Linked DNA regions of Homo sapiens. The protein of the gene in region 5 purifies or fractionates together with the protein of the main gene of each other region. This does not show direct contact. Each region holds a gene or a part of one and is shown on either strand. Other genes may lie near its edges.

The links.
Region 1: the proteins of GFPT2 (region 5) and TARS3 fractionate together in Homo sapiens (co-fractionation; one large-scale study listed by BioGRID). This does not show direct contact.
Region 2: the proteins of GFPT2 (region 5) and CCM2 purify together in Homo sapiens (co-immunoprecipitation; one large-scale study listed by IntAct). This does not show direct contact.
Region 3: the proteins of GFPT2 (region 5) and UTP4 purify together in Homo sapiens (co-immunoprecipitation; one large-scale study listed by IntAct). This does not show direct contact.
Region 4: the proteins of GFPT2 (region 5) and HAVCR2 purify together in Homo sapiens (co-immunoprecipitation; one large-scale study listed by IntAct). This does not show direct contact.

The regions. Positions count from the first base shown.
Region 1 is NC_000015.10:101,703,971-101,707,490, forward strand, and holds part of TARS3 (threonine--tRNA ligase 2, cytoplasmic), read right to left. Parts: intron 1,778-3,520; coding exon 1,713-1,777; intron 1-1,712. UniProt on the Homo sapiens protein: Catalyzes the attachment of threonine to tRNA(Thr) in a two-step reaction: threonine is first activated by ATP to form Thr-AMP and then transferred to the acceptor end of tRNA(Thr).
Region 2 is NC_000007.14:45,062,701-45,066,220, reverse strand, and holds part of CCM2 (cerebral cavernous malformations 2 protein), read right to left. Parts: intron 2,304-3,520; coding exon 2,220-2,303; intron 1,759-2,219; coding exon 1,575-1,758; intron 1-1,574. UniProt on the Homo sapiens protein: Component of the CCM signaling pathway which is a crucial regulator of heart and vessel formation and integrity. May act through the stabilization of endothelial cell junctions. May function as a scaffold protein for MAP2K3-MAP3K3 signaling.
Region 3 is NC_000016.10:69,166,573-69,169,529, reverse strand, and holds the end of UTP4 (U3 small nucleolar RNA-associated protein 4 homolog), read right to left. Parts: intron 2,456-2,957; coding exon 2,345-2,455; intron 710-2,344; coding exon 593-709; 3' UTR 509-592; downstream 1-508. UniProt on the Homo sapiens protein: Ribosome biogenesis factor. Involved in nucleolar processing of pre-18S ribosomal RNA. Part of the small subunit (SSU) processome, first precursor of the small eukaryotic ribosomal subunit.
Region 4 is NC_000005.10:157,085,330-157,088,706, forward strand, and holds the end of HAVCR2 (hepatitis A virus cellular receptor 2 precursor), read right to left. Parts: intron 1,966-3,377; coding exon 1,773-1,965; 3' UTR 503-1,772; downstream 1-502. UniProt on the Homo sapiens protein: Cell surface receptor implicated in modulating innate and adaptive immune responses. Generally accepted to have an inhibiting function.
Region 5 is NC_000005.10:180,301,333-180,304,852, forward strand, and holds part of GFPT2 (glutamine--fructose-6-phosphate aminotransferase [isomerizing] 2), read right to left. Parts: coding exon 3,440-3,520; intron 1,253-3,439; coding exon 1,091-1,252; intron 277-1,090; coding exon 232-276; 3' UTR 1-231. UniProt on the Homo sapiens protein: Controls the flux of glucose into the hexosamine pathway. Most likely involved in regulating the availability of precursors for N- and O-linked glycosylation of proteins.

The DNA.
Region 1 (3,520 bases), on a different chromosome or scaffold from region 5:
AGTTACAGTGTTCTGGACTATTCATTATAAGCCATAATATCCTATGTTTTAGGTAGAGCTTCACTTATTTATATGTAGCAATGCCATTTTTAATTTAGGGTGAAGGAGAGAGGTGATTCATCTAGCCTCAGAGTCCACTCTGCCCTCTAGATTCAAAAACCACAGAACATCTTCTGAAAGAAACTAGGCAATTCTCTGATTAAAAACTTAAAAATTACAATGAATACAAAAAGGGACTGGCTTACAGAGTGGCAAACACGAAAATGTCATCTCTCTCAATGGTCAGTCTTTGTGTATTGTTCTCTAGGGAGAGAGCTTGTAAACAACACTCAGATGAAGGGAAGGAATGCCAAATTAGCATGAAAGGCTTCAATACTCTAATCTTTACATAGAAAGTCACAGGGCCGGGTGTGGTGGCTCACACCTGTAATCCCAGCACTTTGGGAGGCCGAGGCGGGTGGATCACGAGGTCAGGCATTCGAGACCAGCCTCGCCAACATAGTGAAACCCTGTCTCTAATAAAAAATATAAAAAATTAGCTGGGCGTGGTGGTGGGCGCCTGTAATCCCAGCTACTTGGGAGGCTGAGGCAGGAGAATCACTTGAACCTGGGAGGCAGAGGTTGCGGTGAACCGAGGTCGCGCCATCGCACTCCAGCCCGGGCAACAGTGCAAGACTCCATCTCAAAAAATTAAAAAAAAAAAAAAAAAGAAAGCCATAAAAGAAAAGCTTTATTTTTTTTTCAAAAATTAAATACAAGCCATTCAAATTGAAAAACTACAAAAAGTGTCAATGTTGACGTAAGTAAGGTTCTCAAACCCAAGAGCTCAAGCATTAGAAGCCAGAAATTTAAAACTTGGCCTGTTTTCTACATTTTCATTTATTTTTAAGCTTTAAGAAATGCACCGTGCATAGCTTTGCACAAAGGGGATATGATTTTACTTACAGTACAATTAAACCAGAGAACCATAAGTCCTTGACTGTCGAAAGTAAGTACCATGAGGGAGAATATCTGTGGTTATAATTAAATAAATACCAGGTCTTCTAAGGCGGTACTGTGATAGTCCTAGCAGCACCCAGATGGCCGGAACACACGGAAAGGGGAACAGCAATGACATATAAGGCGTATACACACGAATAAAGAAAAAGGTGCTCAGGAACCTGAGGTTAAATGAACAGAGCTAAGTGATTCTGGTATTAACTTCACTTGTCTCCTCTTACATTTGATCCTGCCTTTGTTTCCCAGTATTTTCTTTTGGTCTCATCATGAGTATCCTGCTAATGCATGAAGACTGTACACTTGGACTCTGGACAATGGGGCAGACTCTTCTACACTTGCACTCTGGACAGTAAGTATGAGGCAGAGAATCACTGCCGAGGAGATGGCTTGTAATGGCCCCCACTGCCACATTAATAAGAACGTGGAAGGACAGAATAGAAACTCCTTTCCCAACAGTATCACTCACATGGAGAAAAATCCTGTTATAGCTAACACCCAGGAAACAAAATATGGGTCTCAGTACTGTCCTGATTACTAAAAAGGGGAAAATAATCATTTCTCTTTAGTGAAAACATTTTGAAGATTGTAACTACGGTAGATTATCAACTACACAACTTGAAAAATCGATCTCCAACCAGAAAACAAACTCGGCCTCTACTGCTAACACCTTCAAGTTTACCACTGAGCAGCGTTTACCATGTGTGGACACAAACCTGTACACGGTGGTAGTTGCAGTGTTAACTTTCTCATTCAGAATGCGGCATTTAAATTTATTGTACTACGAAGAAAAACATATTTACACATTATTACACACAATGTTGAAATGAAGAAAACAACTCTACTTTTCTTCAAGAAACATTGAAAGGTCATCTACTGATGTTCTAGGTGCTGAGACACGAGGGATACAAAGAGCTCACAGCCTTGAGCGACACCGTGCAGCATGGAGGCCACAAGCCACGTGGCTACTGGGCATTTCAAATGCCATTAATTTGTGGTTGTTGTTGTTGTTTTTGAGACAGAGTCTCACTCCCTCACCCAGGCTAGGGTGCAGTGCCACCATCTTGGCTCACTGCAACGTCCGTCTCCCTGGTTCAAGCGATTCTGCCTCAGCCTCCCGTGTAGCTGGAATTACAGGCATGTACCACCATGCCTGTATTGTATTTTTGTATTTTTACTATGTGCTAATTTTTGTATTTTTAGTAGAGACAGGGTTTCACTATGTTGGCCAGGCTGGTCTCAAACTCCTGACCTCTAGTGATCCGCCTGCCTTGGCCTCCCAAAGTACTGGGATTACAGGTGTGAGCCACCACACCTGGCCTCAAATGCCACTAATTTGAAAGAAGATGTGCAGTGAGTATAAAACACACTGGACTTTGGAAGTATAATGTTGCAAAAAGAAGAAGAAAATCATTCGTTAATCATTCTTTATACTGGCTACCATTGAAATTATACTTTTTATATATTGGGTTAAAAATTTGTTAAAATTAATTGCAACTTTTACTTTTAAAATGTAGCTGCCATAAAATTATAGGTTACACATGTAGCTCAGACTAGTGGATTCCATTATGTTTCTATTGGACAGTACTGTTCTAGAAGATCTAATTTTAACATTAATCAATAAAATTCTGACAAGGACACAGCTATATTATTAATTTGTATAAAAACAAAAGCAAAGTTTATCGTAATGATGATATATTTATAAAACTAAGGGTTTTTTTCCTTTTCCTTTCTTTTCTGCTTCCATCACTACTATCGGGGTATACAAGGCACTTTATATTAAATAACTACTTAAAGAAGCTAGTTGTTGGGAGAAAAACCCGTATCTGCATGATTTAACTGTTTCGTATCTATATATTCACAACAAATCATTTTCCTTAACAAAGATTAATTGTGTTTAGTTCTTAAAAGTAGCTGCAAAAAAGGCAACCCACAGAATTAAATATTTGCAAATCACATATCTGTTAAGAAATGGATATCCAGAATATATCAAGAACTCTTATAACTCAAATACAAAAAAACCTAATTAAAAAATGGGCAAAAGAGCTCAACAGACATTTCTCCAAAGACATTTCTTCAAGAAAATACACAAATGGCCAATAAGCACATTAAGATGCTCACCATTAGTACGTCATCAGAGAAATGCAAGTCAAAACAAAACCCCAATGAGATACCACTTCACAACCATTAGGATGTCCATGATTAAAAAAAAAACAAAACAAGTGTTGGCAAGGATGTGGAAAAACTGAACCCCCTGTGCATCACTGGTGGGACTGTAAAATGGTGTAGCCACTGCACCAAACGGTATGGCGAGTTCTCGAAAACTTAAAAACAGAATTGCCATAGGATCCAGAAATTCCCCTTCTAAGTATATTCCCAAAAGAAGTAAAGCAGAGACTCAAACAGAACTTTACACACCCATGTTCACAGCAGCGCTGTTCACAATAGTAGCCAAAAGGCAGAAGCAACCCAAGTGTTTACAGGTGGATGAATGGATCAACAAAATGTGGTCTATCCGTACAAT
Region 2 (3,520 bases), on a different chromosome or scaffold from region 5:
CCCCCAGGACACAGGGATTCACTCTCTTCCTTTAAATCAAAAGTTCTCTCAAAGACCAGAAGTCCTGTTTTTCATCTAATTTTGGAAAGTTTCTCCTATGGCGCTCATTCTCTCTCCATTAAAAAAAATCTGTCATCCATTTCCTTTAGCAATGTGTTCTAATAATTAAAGCTGAGAAACTGTCATGCAGCAGAAGAAATAAAGGGAGGAGCCTATCTCCCCTCCCTACCAGCTTGAAACACCTGCAAGAAGCGAGTCAGAAACCAGTCTCCTCACTCCTTGTCCCTAAGGATGTCCCAGGCCTAAGGCCTCCCGCAGGGTCCAAAGGTAGAAAAACAGGAGGGTCACCATGGTGTCGGATAGTATGGCTGGAAGGAGCCACCAACCCAGCCTTCTAAGCCAGATAGGGTGAGTAATGTACATGTGTGTAGGTGTGGTGTGTGCCTGCGTTGGGGAGGGTGTACGCAAGTCTAAGCTACTGCTACACAGAGAACAAAACAGAGCAACAGCCACCTTCATAAACCCCGCCAGTGTTCCCTGTGTAGTTTATGACCACAGCAACCCCAAGCATCTAGACTCACAGGCTTTCAGTGGACTGCTCTCAAGAGCGCACTCAAGCTGGCAGCTTCATGGCTCAAGGGGTCAATAATGAACACACTCGCCAGATTCTCAATGAACTACTGACCTTAAGTGGAACAACAAATTCCCCTCTCTGCTACCTAAAACACAGTGTGTGGTCTAGGCAGACCCACTGTGACCCCTTCACACCCTGCCACTGGCCCTCTGGAAATGAAAGGCTTTGGGATCAACCCAGTCACCAGCAGAGATCCAAGGAGCCCAGGATACTGTCCCCACTGCAACACCAGCCTCGAAACTCAGGACTGGGAGGGGCAAAATACAGGTAGGGCGAACCATGGTCTCTCCCCTCATCCTCAGTGGCCTGAATGCCTGGGCTGGAAGCTGCTGGAAATTAACGGGCAGCTTGGGCTTGGGTCCAGTGAGGCAGCACTGTACTCACCACAGCCAAAAATAACATTCTGCCCAATTCTGCCCAATTCTGCCCAATTCTATCCCATTGTGAAAGCAGCAGACGGCAAGGACACACAGAGAGTAACCTCTATGACCAAGAGCTCCTGGGAGGTCTGGGTCTCATCTTTTCTGTCCCAGGTTTGAGGACACTGTGCAGAGCTCAAAATATCAGTCAAGCTGAGGTGAGGTCCCTATCCACTGCACTCTCTCTAGGCTCCACCACACCTGGGCAGAGGGGCAACTCCACTGTACCCAGAGGGAGTCAATAGGAGCCCCACCGGGCAGAGGAACAGGATACCAGTCCTAAATACTGTATCCCAGTATTATTGAGTCCCCAAAGGCTCTTAGTGTGACAGTCACCCCCAGTGTCTGGTAACTGATCTCAAGCCCTCTTCTGGCTGATCTCAGAGACAGGAAAGACAATTATTGGTCGTGACAAACAGCAGCACCCAACACGAAGCTGCAAAAACTGTCTCCAGAACTTCATAAAATTCACACATGTACTCCTTAGGACAAGGACCCTCCTGACCCCTGACCTCCTGTACCTGTCTTCAGGACCACCAGGTGTGCAGCGTCATCCCGAACATAGGAGACGGCGGCGATGTCATGGATGGGCACCCTGAGGATGATATCCTCCCCGTCCCTCCAGGCCAGCTTGACGTTGTACGCAGACAGGCTGAGCACAGCATCGTGCTCCTGAGTCAAGTGTCCCGGAAGCTGGTGGGCTCTCTGGAAGGAACCACAGGGCATCAGAAATACAGACTCAGCTGTCAACCGGCATGGGGCGCTTCTCCTGAGAATATTGTGCTGGCCGATGTCACACATGTGACAAATGCTGAGTGAATAAGGTCAGTGTTATTCCCCTCAGAACAGTGCTTATTCCAGGGACACCAATGTGTTCAAACCATTTGGGAGATTCTTCTGGAACTGCCTTCAGATTCAGACTTACGGCACATGGTTTGAAATATCTTGAAAGTGTAAATTTTGGAAACAGCCCAAAATCACATGGAGCAAGTGTCGAGAATCAACTTAATGTCCATACTAAGGAATAGTCTTTATGGCCAAGAGCCAAGTGTACCCATAATGTGATGGGACTGGCTCATTCCTCACAGCCACGAGGCCAAGAGTACAGGGACCAAGGGCTGGTGGGGGCTGAGGGCTAGTGCACAGGGTTAAGAGGATAGGGTTACCTTTGCATTGTCTATGAAATGCAGGATTTCAGTCCTACTGGAGGGATTCAGGTATCCTGGTATGGACGTTAACTGACCTAAATACTGAAAGAAAGTGAAGAAAAAAATGCCATGAGAAATGGGAGCTGAGCCAACACCACCATCACTACCACCGAGAGCACAAACCAAGTGCTTCATACTCAGGCCACCAGGCCCATGGGTCTCCATTCCGGCTCGCGTGGAGGCCCAACTCTAGGAAGAGAGTCCTGGGTTCTTACAGAAATCTCTACTGGCTGAGGACAGTGCTGCCCCATCTCCTACTATTCTACAGTGAAGGTCATCATCAAAAGTCCTGCAATGAGTATCCCAAACTACTAGTACCAAAACTACTAGTTTTGGTAGAATCTGTATTCTAAAACAGGGATGGTCAGGGTTTTCTCGTCACTGCTGGGGAAACTGAAAACAATGGCATCATGCACAACTTCACTAAAAAATAAACTTCCTCAATTGCAAAGGTCAACATAGCTGAGAAATGAGCATAAATAGAGAAATGAAGTGCTATGGTTTCAATGTGTCCCCCAAAAAGCATGTGCTGGAAACTTAGTCCCCACATGCAACAGTGTTAAGGGTGGGGCCTTTAAGAGGTGATTAGGCCAGGTGCGGTGGCTCACGCCTGTAATCCCAGCACTTTGGGAGGCTAAGGTGGGCAGATCACCTGAGGTTGGGAGTTCGAAACCAGCCTGACCAACATGGAGAAACCCCGTCTCTACTAAAAATACAAAATTAGCTGGACGTGGTGGTGCATGCCTGTAATCTCAGCTACTCAGGAGGCTGAGGCAGGATAATTGCTTGAACCCGGGAGGCGGAGGTTGTGGTGAGCCAAGACTGCGCCATTATACTCCAGCCTGGGCAACAAGAGCAAAACTCCATCTCAAAAAAAAAAAAGAAAGAAAAGAGCTGATTAGGCCACGAGAGCTCTGCCCTTGTGAGCACATTAATGCTGTTATCCTGGGAGAGGGTTTGTTATCTCAGGAGCAGGTTCCTGATGAAAGGATGAATTTGACCCCCTTCCCTCTCCTGCCCTTCCACCTTTCGCCCTGGGATAACATAAGATGCAGATGCAGCCCCTCACCAGCTGTGCCCTTCAACCTTAAACCTCCTAGCCTCCAGAACGATACGATTTTTTTTTTTTTTTTGAGACAGGGTCTCACTCTATCACACAGGCTGGGGTGCAGAGGCGTGATCTTGGCTCACTGCAACCTCTGCCTCCCAGGCTCAAAGCAATTGTCCCACCTTAGCCTCCTGAGTAGCTGGTACTACAG
Region 3 (2,957 bases), on a different chromosome or scaffold from region 5:
TAAAAAGGCAGTTAATGGGACTGATAACCCAAGCTTTTTTTACTTTTAAATAAAATTAACGGCTGACTGTCAAAGGTCAAAGGCATCTATTTTTTAGATGGAGCACTCCCTTATAATGCTGGAGTTGAAATTCTTCCTTGAACTCTAAGGCTGATTATGGTTATTAGTGGTCAGGCTATCCTGGGTAAGTAATTACGGTCCTCTGCCCTCCAGGGCGAGGATGGGCAGATTCCTACGCAGTTCCATGGGCTGGGGGCTGGCAGGAAGTGAAGGCTATCAGCTCTCTGAAGCCTTAGGCATGTAATAGGGAACAGAACACAAATATCTTTTCTTCTGAGATTGCGGCCTACAGAATAAGCAGGACTCAATCAACATTAGATGAGTTTGTAGCTACTGAGCACATTATCCCCAATACAAATACCTCATTTGGAATTTCCATTCATTTTCATTCAATGAAGGGAAATGACTGTCCATTATTTTGGAAGAAAACATTTATAATGACTAGTCCTCAAGAATAACTTGTTTTATTACCATGATTTGTGAAAAGCAACAGGGTAGACAGTTCAAGGAAGGACACAGACAGTGCCCTGTTTTAGGTTCCAAATTTCTTCTTTTTAATGGGTGGTGGGAGCTGAGCAATGATGTCATCCAGAGGCCGTTCTACTGCCACGAGTGTTCTTTCATCCAAAAGATCCATGAAGAGTAGAGGCTGCAGAGGGATGATAATTATTCTATCAGGACTTAGGATCCAGGGCTAGTCCTGAAAGAACTGACTGTAGGTAGACACCATCTAAGCTAAAAGGTTAGCCTAGTTCAAGGCTCAAATGATTTAAATTTCTTGACAATCTTTCCTGCCCTGGGACTCAAAATAGTTGGAATGCATAAAAGCTTTTTTTTTTATTTTTTAGAGATCTTGCTATGTTGCCTAGGCAGGAGAGCAGTGGTCATTCATAGACATGATCAACGTGCACTGAAGCCCTGAACTCCTGGGCAATCATCCTGCCTCAGTCTCCTGAGTAGCTGGGACAATAGGTAGGTGTGCACGGCTGCGCCTGGCTCAAGATTGGGAGCCTTTTTTTTTTTTTTTTTTTTTTTTGAGACAGTCTCGCTCTGCCGCCCAGGCTGGAGTGCAGTGGCGCAATCTCGGCTCACGGCAAGCTCCGCCTCCCGGGTTCACGCCATTCTCCCGCCTCAGCCTCCCGGGTAGCTGGGACTACAGGTGCCCACCACCACGCCCGGCTAATTTTTTGTATTTTTAGTAGAGATGGGGTTTCACCGTGTTAGCCAGGATGGTCTCGATCTCCTGAACTCGTGATCCGCCCACCTTGGCCTCCCAAAGTGCTGGGATTACAGGCGTGAGCCACTGCGCCCGGCCAAGATTGGGAGCTTTTAACTAAGTTCACTCATAAAAGGTCTCAGCAGGATTTTTTTACATTTCTCTGGATAGAAAATCTATGCTTCTTATATCTCAAGAATCAATGTTAAGCAAGGACTTTAAAGCCTAAGTTCTTTTTTTTCTCAGACAGAATCTCGATGTTACCCAGCCTGGAGTGCAGTGGTGCAATCATACTCACCGCAGCCTTGAACTCCTGAGCACAAGCTATCCTCCCATCTCAGCCTCTTGAGCAGCTGGGACTACAGGCATGCTCCACCACACCTAGCTAATTTTTATATTTTTTTTTTTTTTGTAGAGACAGGGTCTCACTATGTTGCCCAGACTGGTCTTGAACTCCAGCCTCAACCTCCTAAAGTACTGAGATTACAGGCGTGAATCACCATACCCAGCCTAAGGCAACTGACAACTGGCAAGCTACAAATGCATCAAGAAGCTAATCACATTTGAGTCATTTGAGTAATCAGTAATTTACAGAACTCTCCTTTTTTTTTTTTTGTTAATAGTGATGGGGTTTCACCATGGTGCCCAGGCTGGTTTTGAATTCCTGGGCTGAGGAGATCCACCTGCCTTGGCCTCCCAAAGTGCTGGGATTACAGGTATGAGCTACCAAGCCCAGCCTGCTTGACATTTATCCTATGGAACACTCCAACAAGTAAAATTTAAAGCCAGCTCTCATGACAACAAAGACTCTACCCTCAGCGCCAACATTTCTCACTACTTACGCATTTCATTTTGGTTAAGTATGATGTGCCTGCCTCTAACCTACTAAGGCAAGAACAATAAAACATATACAAGGGACAGCCAGCCTCAAAAAGGTGACTTGTCTCCCACAAGCCAGGTTCTCTGCATGGAAACTGAAGGTGCTCTTATCTTCCGATTGTGGAGTTTATTACATTTTGGTATCACAAAGGAACCAACTATCCAGAATAACAACACAAGATGTTTTACCTTATATATCTTAGAAATTTTAAAAGCATGAGCTGTGCGCCTCCGGATGACATCTGATTCATTCGTGGGAGGAAATGGATTGTAGAGTAAGGTTTTGTCATTTGGAAGGGGCTAAAAAAACAAAGACACATTGTTTAAATGGTTACTTTTATTGGGCTTCTGCAGACCAAAGATCTGTAGTGCATTTTGAGCCCAACATCATCTTCTAACCATCATATATATTCAGTACCTCCCTGACATTCGTTAATTCGGGAAAACAGCTGTAGCCATAATACCTCTATTCAGAAAAACTAGGGGGGAAAAAAAGAAGAAAAGGAGAGAGAGGGAGAAAGAGCTGAAGCTACTCTTGCAGCCACACTGTAGAGGGTGGGTGTATGAGGCAAAGAGAGCTTGTTAACTCCATGCAGCAAGATCAAAGGGCCCTTCTGCGGCTTCTGGCCTGTCTCATCAGTATCACTTTGTCAGAATGGAACAAACTGGCAAGTGCAGGAGCTCAGCCCACACAGGGTCTGTGCTTTCTAGACTCTCCCCCAACCAGATCACAGACTGGACAAGTGACTGGAGTTCTCCCCAGGCGAAACCTCAACACAAACCACCTGTGCTGATGTCACTG
Region 4 (3,377 bases), about 23 Mb from region 5:
AGAAATAATGCCGCATATCTACAACTATCTGATCTTTGACAAACCTGAGAAAAACAAGCAATGGGGAAAGGATTCCCTATTTAATAAATGGTGCTGGGAAAACTGGCTAGCCATATGTAGAAAGCTGAAACTGGATCCCTTCCTTACACCTTATACAAAAATTAATTCAAGATGGATTAAAGACTTAAACGTTAGACCTAAAACCCTAAAAACCCTAGAAGAAAACCTAGACATTACCATTCAGGACATAGGCATGGGCAAGGACTTCATGTCTAAAACACCAAAAGCAATGGCCACAAAAGCCAAAATTGACAAATGGGATCTAATTAAACTAAAGAGCTTCTGCACAGCAAAAGAAACTACCATCAGAGTGAACAGGCAACCTATAAAATGGGAGAAAATTTTCGCAACCTACTCATCTGACAAAGGGCTAATATCCAGAATCTACAATGAACTCAGACAGAGCGAGATTCTATCTCAAAAAACAAACAAACAAACAAAAAACAGTAAAAAAAAATTTTTAGTAAGTTCCAATTGTGTGTCAGAATTGTGCTAGGCGCAGGGGGCAACAATAAGCAAGACAGATCAAGCCTATACCGTCTTGAAATTTAAGTTTAGGGACCACTCTCTGTCAAAGGATCCAGCGCTGGTAATATAGATTGCTGAAGGCCTTTGCCTTCTTTCCACCAGGCAACAGAATTTGTGTCCCCGTCACTGCTTCTTCTTCTGTGAAAAATATAGCTTCAGTTTGGTCCACGAATACAGAAGTTGGTCAGAGATATTTTCTTTCAAGCACACAACAAGCAAAACTTGGCCAATACACACCAATCAAATGCACTTCGTTTTTCCCTGGGAGCTCCTGCCACATCTCAGCCCTGCAGGGCAGTCTTCATAAGGGAGACAAAAGAAGGGCTATGCACTGGCACTGACAGTTGGGCAGGCAGTGCTCAAATAAGCCTAAATCTCAACATTCCAAGGGAATCTTCAAGATCAAGGTAGACCTGGTCCAGTCATCTCTTAATCTTTTAAGGATCACTGGCTGGATGTGGTGGCTCACGCCTGTAATCCCAGTGCTTTGGGAGGCCGAGGCAGGCAAATCATGAGGTCAGGAGTTTGAGACCACACTGGCCAACATGGTGAAACCCTGTCTCTACTAAAAATACAACAAATTAGCTGGGCATGGTGGTGCATGCCTGTAATCCCAGCCACTCAGGAGGCTGAGGCAGGAGAATCGCTTGAACCCAGGAGGCGGAGCTTGCAGTGAGCCGAGATTGTGCCATTGCACTCCAGCCTGGGCAACAGAGCAAGACTCCATCTCAAAAACAAAAAACAAAAAGGGATCACAGATCTCTTTGAAAATCAGTGGCCCCTTTAGACTTTCTGTGCCAAAAAAGTTATGCTTTCACCTCAGCACCCAGTTTTCCCTAGTTTATCTGAAGTTTCATGGACATATGATGTGCCCGAATTTCCTGGAGCTCCAGAGACCCCACGTCAAGAATTCCTAGTGTATATAAAAGCCCGTTTGAGCTCTAACATCCATGATTAACAGTCTCTGGGTTGGGTAACTCTGTTGGCTTAAATACAGAGGCAATGACATGCCTGTTTAAGTTCAGTGCAGGTCCCAGTTCAATTCCCATGTGAGTCATTATCTTCTGAAAATGGGAAAACTCTGCTCCATAGCAGTGGACAGAACCTCCAAAACCAGTCAGGTGACACAGCTCATAGTTTCTGAAAAAGACAAAACACCAAGCTCAAAAATAAGGTGGTTGGATCTATGGCATTGCAAAGCGACAACCCAAAGGTTGTGAGGGTTGCTGCCTGCTGCTGACATAGCAATAATACTCATTGGGCTCCTCCACTTCATATACGTTCTCTTCAATGGTATAGATGTTTTCTTCTGAGCGAATTCCCTCTGCTACTGCATTTGCCAATCCTGAGGGAGGGAGGTTGGCCAAAGAGATGAGGCTGTGGAAATAAAGTGTTGCGGTTGAGTTAAGCATTTCCCAGGTAACACGGAATAGAGTTAAGAGAATAGGCTTTCCCAAAGAGACAGCAACTAAATATAGTGCATGATCTTTGATCAGATGCTGAACAAGTGGAAAAGCCAAGAAATAGCAATAAAATACTATGGGGAAACAATTGAGAAAATGTCCATTAATTTTAATTTTCTTAGGTATAACAACAGCATTGTGATAGCTAAGAGAATATTTTTATTTCTCGGAGGTGCAGGCTGAAGTTTAGGTGAAGTATCAAGATGTCTGCAATTATGTACACATTTAGATTTTCAAAAAATGGGCCGGGCGCCGTGGCTCACGCCTGTAATCCCAGCACTTTGGGAGGCTGAGCCTGGCAGATCACGAGGTCAGGAGTTCGAGACCAGCCTGGCCAACATAGTGAAACCCCGTCTCTACTAAACATACAAAAAATTAGCCAGCGTGGTGGCATGCACCTGTAATCCCAGCTACTTGGGAGGCTAATGCAGAGAATCGCTTGAACCCGAGAAGCAGAGGTTATAGTGAGCCGAGGTTGTGCCACTGCACTCCAGCCTGGGTGACAGAGCCAGACTCCGTCTCAAAAAAAAAAAAAAAAAATTATTAATGCTTTAGATAGCATTCAATGGACAGAGGTTTTTGTTTTGTTTTGTTTGATGCTGGGTCTTTCTCTGTCACCCAGGTGGGAATGCAGTGGCACAATCATGGCTCATTGCAGCCTTCATCTCCTGTGCTCCAGCAATCCTTCCACCTAATGTTTCCATTTTTTTGTAGAGAAGAGGTCTCATCATGTTGCCCAGGCTGGTCTTGAACTCCTGGGCTCATGTGATCCTCCCACCTCAGCCTCCCAAAGTGCTGGGCTTATAGGCGTAAGCCACAGCACCTAGCCCAGAATCATTTTTGTAATCCAAATATATTGTATTCCATTCATGTGCCAAACATCACTAAAAGTCTAAAATCTAGTAAGTTATGTAAGCCATACCTATTTGAAATGGATGTGTGGGTGTGTATAATCAGGAACGAAGGTCAAGACAGGAGTCTATAACAGACTAGCAGTTCTCAGCCCTGACTGTTCACTAGAATCACCTGGAGAGCTTTTAGAACAATTTCTATGCTTAGGCTTCATCCCCAGAGATTCTGATTCAGTTGCTCTGGGGTTGGCCCTGCATTAGTACACTTCAGTGCCTGGGTGATTCTAATAGGAAACTAAAGTTGAAAATGCCTGGGCTGTTTACAGAAATGCTGAGAACAGATACTGGGTTTCTTGCTCACTTCTGTAACGCCTAAGTGCAGCCCAGACCCTGGATATAATAGGAGCTCAATCCGTTGATGTTTCAGTTCAGTGGAAAAACCATTAATATCGAGATGAATAAGCATGTTGTATTA
Region 5 (3,520 bases):
CCCCATGTGTAAACAATGATTCCCTTCTCCTCTGGCGACTTCAGGACACAGAGAAACAGTATCTGCTGTAAGCAAAAGCACTTGGGTAGAAGGCACGTGGAAGCTGTCAAGCTCTACAGGAGCACGCAGAACATGTGGGATGTCCACTTCTCTTCCCATGTAGCATCCCTGCTGTTGGGACAGGTCTGGAATCAGATGAAAGGTGGTGATGGTCTTGTCACGGTCTCAGCCTCATTCCACAGTTACAGACTTGGCCAGATTTCTGGGGAAGTCAACCTAAAATGAAAGAAAGTGACTGTTCAGGACCCCAAAGATCTCAGCAACATGCTACCTCTCACAGACAATTTTCAGAGTACTTAAAAACAAGAGACAGATGTTCACCATGGTCACCAACCTAGAGACCTGCGTCTTGGAGGCAGATTCCTTAGTCCAGAAGCCTCATTTAACCGTATAAGGTTTAGTCCCTCAATAAACATTTACTGTGCACCTGATGTGTGTCATGATCTGTTAACATGATTTAAAGAATAAGGTTCATGCTTTTAAACACAGGTAACTTGGTGTGTACTGTTAAAAATTAACTTTTCTTGCAAGAATATATATGAATTCCATGGGACTTATTTGTTTAGGGTGGAGTGGGAAGGAAAGGTAGGAATGGTTCATAAGTACGCTTCTACTGGGCCGGGTGCGGTGGCTCACACCTGTAATCCCAGCACTTTGGGAGGCTGAGGCAGGTGGATCACGAGGTCAGATCAAGGTCATCCTGGCTAACACGGTGAAACCCCGTCTCTACAAAAAATACAAAAAATTAGCCAGGCATGGTGGCGGGTGCTTGTAGTCCCAGCTACTCGGGAGGCTGAGGCAGGAGAATCGCTTGAACCCAGGAGGTGGAGCTTGCAGTGAGCCGAGGTTGTGCCACTGCCCTCCAGCCTGGGCGACAGAGCGAGACTCAATCTCAAAAAAAAAAAAAAGAAAGCTACTTTAAATAAAATTATTTACTCTATGACTATTTACTCCAAGTATTTAAAGAACAGAAAGGAACTCTGGGGTTATGTCTCTCCTCTCTGCTGTTAGGTGCAGTTTTTAGACGCACGTCATATCCTCGGAGAACAGCCAGGTGGAAGGACAGCAGCTGCAGCGGAATCACGCTCAGGATGCCCTGGAGGCAGTCCACAGTGTGGGGCAGCTCAATTGTCTTATACGCAAACTTGGAACTTTCAGTATCGTCCTTGGAGCACAGTATAATGGGGCGACCCTAGAGCAGAGAAATAGCATCATAAAATAGACCCTCTCTGAAAGAAGCTATCCCTGATGCATACAGAGTATCTGGAAGCTACATTACTGTGATGAGAACAGTCCTCTTTTGCATTTGCTGGAGTCATGGGTGAGGTGGTATGTGTGGGACACAAATGCTTGGAAAGGATAAAGTGTCTGATGCTTTTTGGGGGTTTCTTCCCCTTCCCTGGTAAGGAGATTGCCATCCTGCTGCATCATTTGGCACCCATTTGTGCCTTGCCGAGAGCGGGGCAGACTCACTCCTAACTCTAGCGGGGCTCATAGTCTAGTGGTAGAAAACAAAAACCTAGACAAGCAAACCAAGAAATAAAGATGAATTCCAGGCCGGGCGTGGTGGCTCACGCCTGTAATCCCAACACTTTGGGAGGCTGAGGCGGGTGGATCACGAGGTCAGGAGATCGAGACCATCCTGGCTAACATGGTGAAACCCTGTCTCTACTAAAAAATACAAAAAATTAGCCGGGTGTGGTGGCGGGGGCCTGTAGTCCCAGCTACTGGGGAGGCTGAGGCAGGAGAATGGCGTGAACCTGGGAGGCGGAGCTTGCAGTGAGCCGAGATGGCGCCACTGCACTCCAGCCTGGGCGACAGAGCCAGACTCCGTCACAAAAAAAAAAAAAAAATGAATTCCAAAGAAATGCCACCAAGGCTAGAAAACAGGATAATGTCATTGGGAGACTGGTGAGGTCTCCAAAGCTCTCTCAAAAACAGGAGACATCTGGACTGAACCCTAAATGATGAGGGGACAACCCTCGGCGGAGCATTCTGTGGGAAGGGCATTCCAGACAGCAGGAGCGGCCAGCGCAAAGGCCCGGAGGCGGGCGCGGGCGCAATGAGAGTGGGACGCAGAAGGAAAGCTGGAGTGCCTGGAACTCACTGAAACAGGAGGAAAGGGCCAGATAACGCAGGACTGTGGGTCTCTGTGGCTTGACAGGCAGGTATGGGAGGGTTTTAAGTGGGGAAATGATGCCATTGTGTTTTATACCCTCACTCTGACCTCTGTGCTGAGCCAGGTGGCAACATCTGGATGGGGCACCTCATTGGATTTCACCTCCCCGAAACTTCATGAACTCTGCCCTCCTACCTCAGGGCAGCTGCTGTGTACAAAGCATTTGGTTGGTCTTTGTGGCCGGTTCCAGGAAGGGAGCTCCTGGCTTCTGGACTTTCCCATGTGACAAAAGCATCTTTGTTATTTATGGGAGGTCCCTTGGACTATACCTAACTTTATGCTAAGGTGACGACTCGTGGTGGGCCTGTAGATAGTTCCAGGATGGCGTCTGGCCCTGCTAGAAAGGCCAGCCACATGATTAGAAGGTTGGGGCTTTGAGACATGAGCCTGTCAGTCTGACCTCCCAACCTCCAAGGACAAAAGTGGGGCTGGCGACTGAGTTTGATCACATGGCCAATGGTTCACTCCATCCTGCCTACTTAATAAAACCACAATACAAACTCTGGACACTGGAGCTAGCAGCTCAGGGGAGCTCCCGGGCGACACACAGTGACGTGCTGGGAGGGTGACACATCCTGAGGACACAAGCTTCACATCTGGGGCCCTCAAACTAGGGGTCTCTTCTTTTGGGTTGGCTGTGATTTATATCTTTTATAATAAAACTGTAATCATATAGTCATCTCCTGAGTTCTATGGGTCGTTCTAGAAAATTACTGAACTTCAGGGGAGAGTGGGAATCCTTGGATTCATAGTCAGTTGCTCAGATGTGTGGGTGGACCCCTGGCTTGCAACAGGTGCCTGAATCGAGGGCAGTCTTATGGAAAGCTGTGCCCCTGCCCTATGAGACCTGACCTAACTCCAGGTAGTTCCCATCGGAGCTGCTTGGCCGCAGAACCTGGGGAAACCCTGCCCCAGGGATGTCCACCAGGAGTACCTCCCCTGAGCTCCAGGCTAGGATCTGGTGCTGCTCACAGCAGTGTGGGTCCCTGGGCCCCACCAAAGAGCTGTGTGGGACAGCTGCGGGCTGACCAGCTCCTTTCCAAGTGTGTGCACTCCCCACAGGCGGCCCGGGGGAGGGTGTGTGGTCACAGCCACTCACTGGCCAGACCATCCATCACTGGTACTGGCAGACAGTGGTGAGGTGGGCATGCATGGGGAAAAGCAGGAGAGAGCTGGCCCAGTCCAGTGGAGAGCCCTCACCTGGCGGGCCGTGACTTGCTGCAGGGCGTTCTGGCATTTGGCGAAGCAAGGATCCTTCATAATGACCATGATGACGGGCAT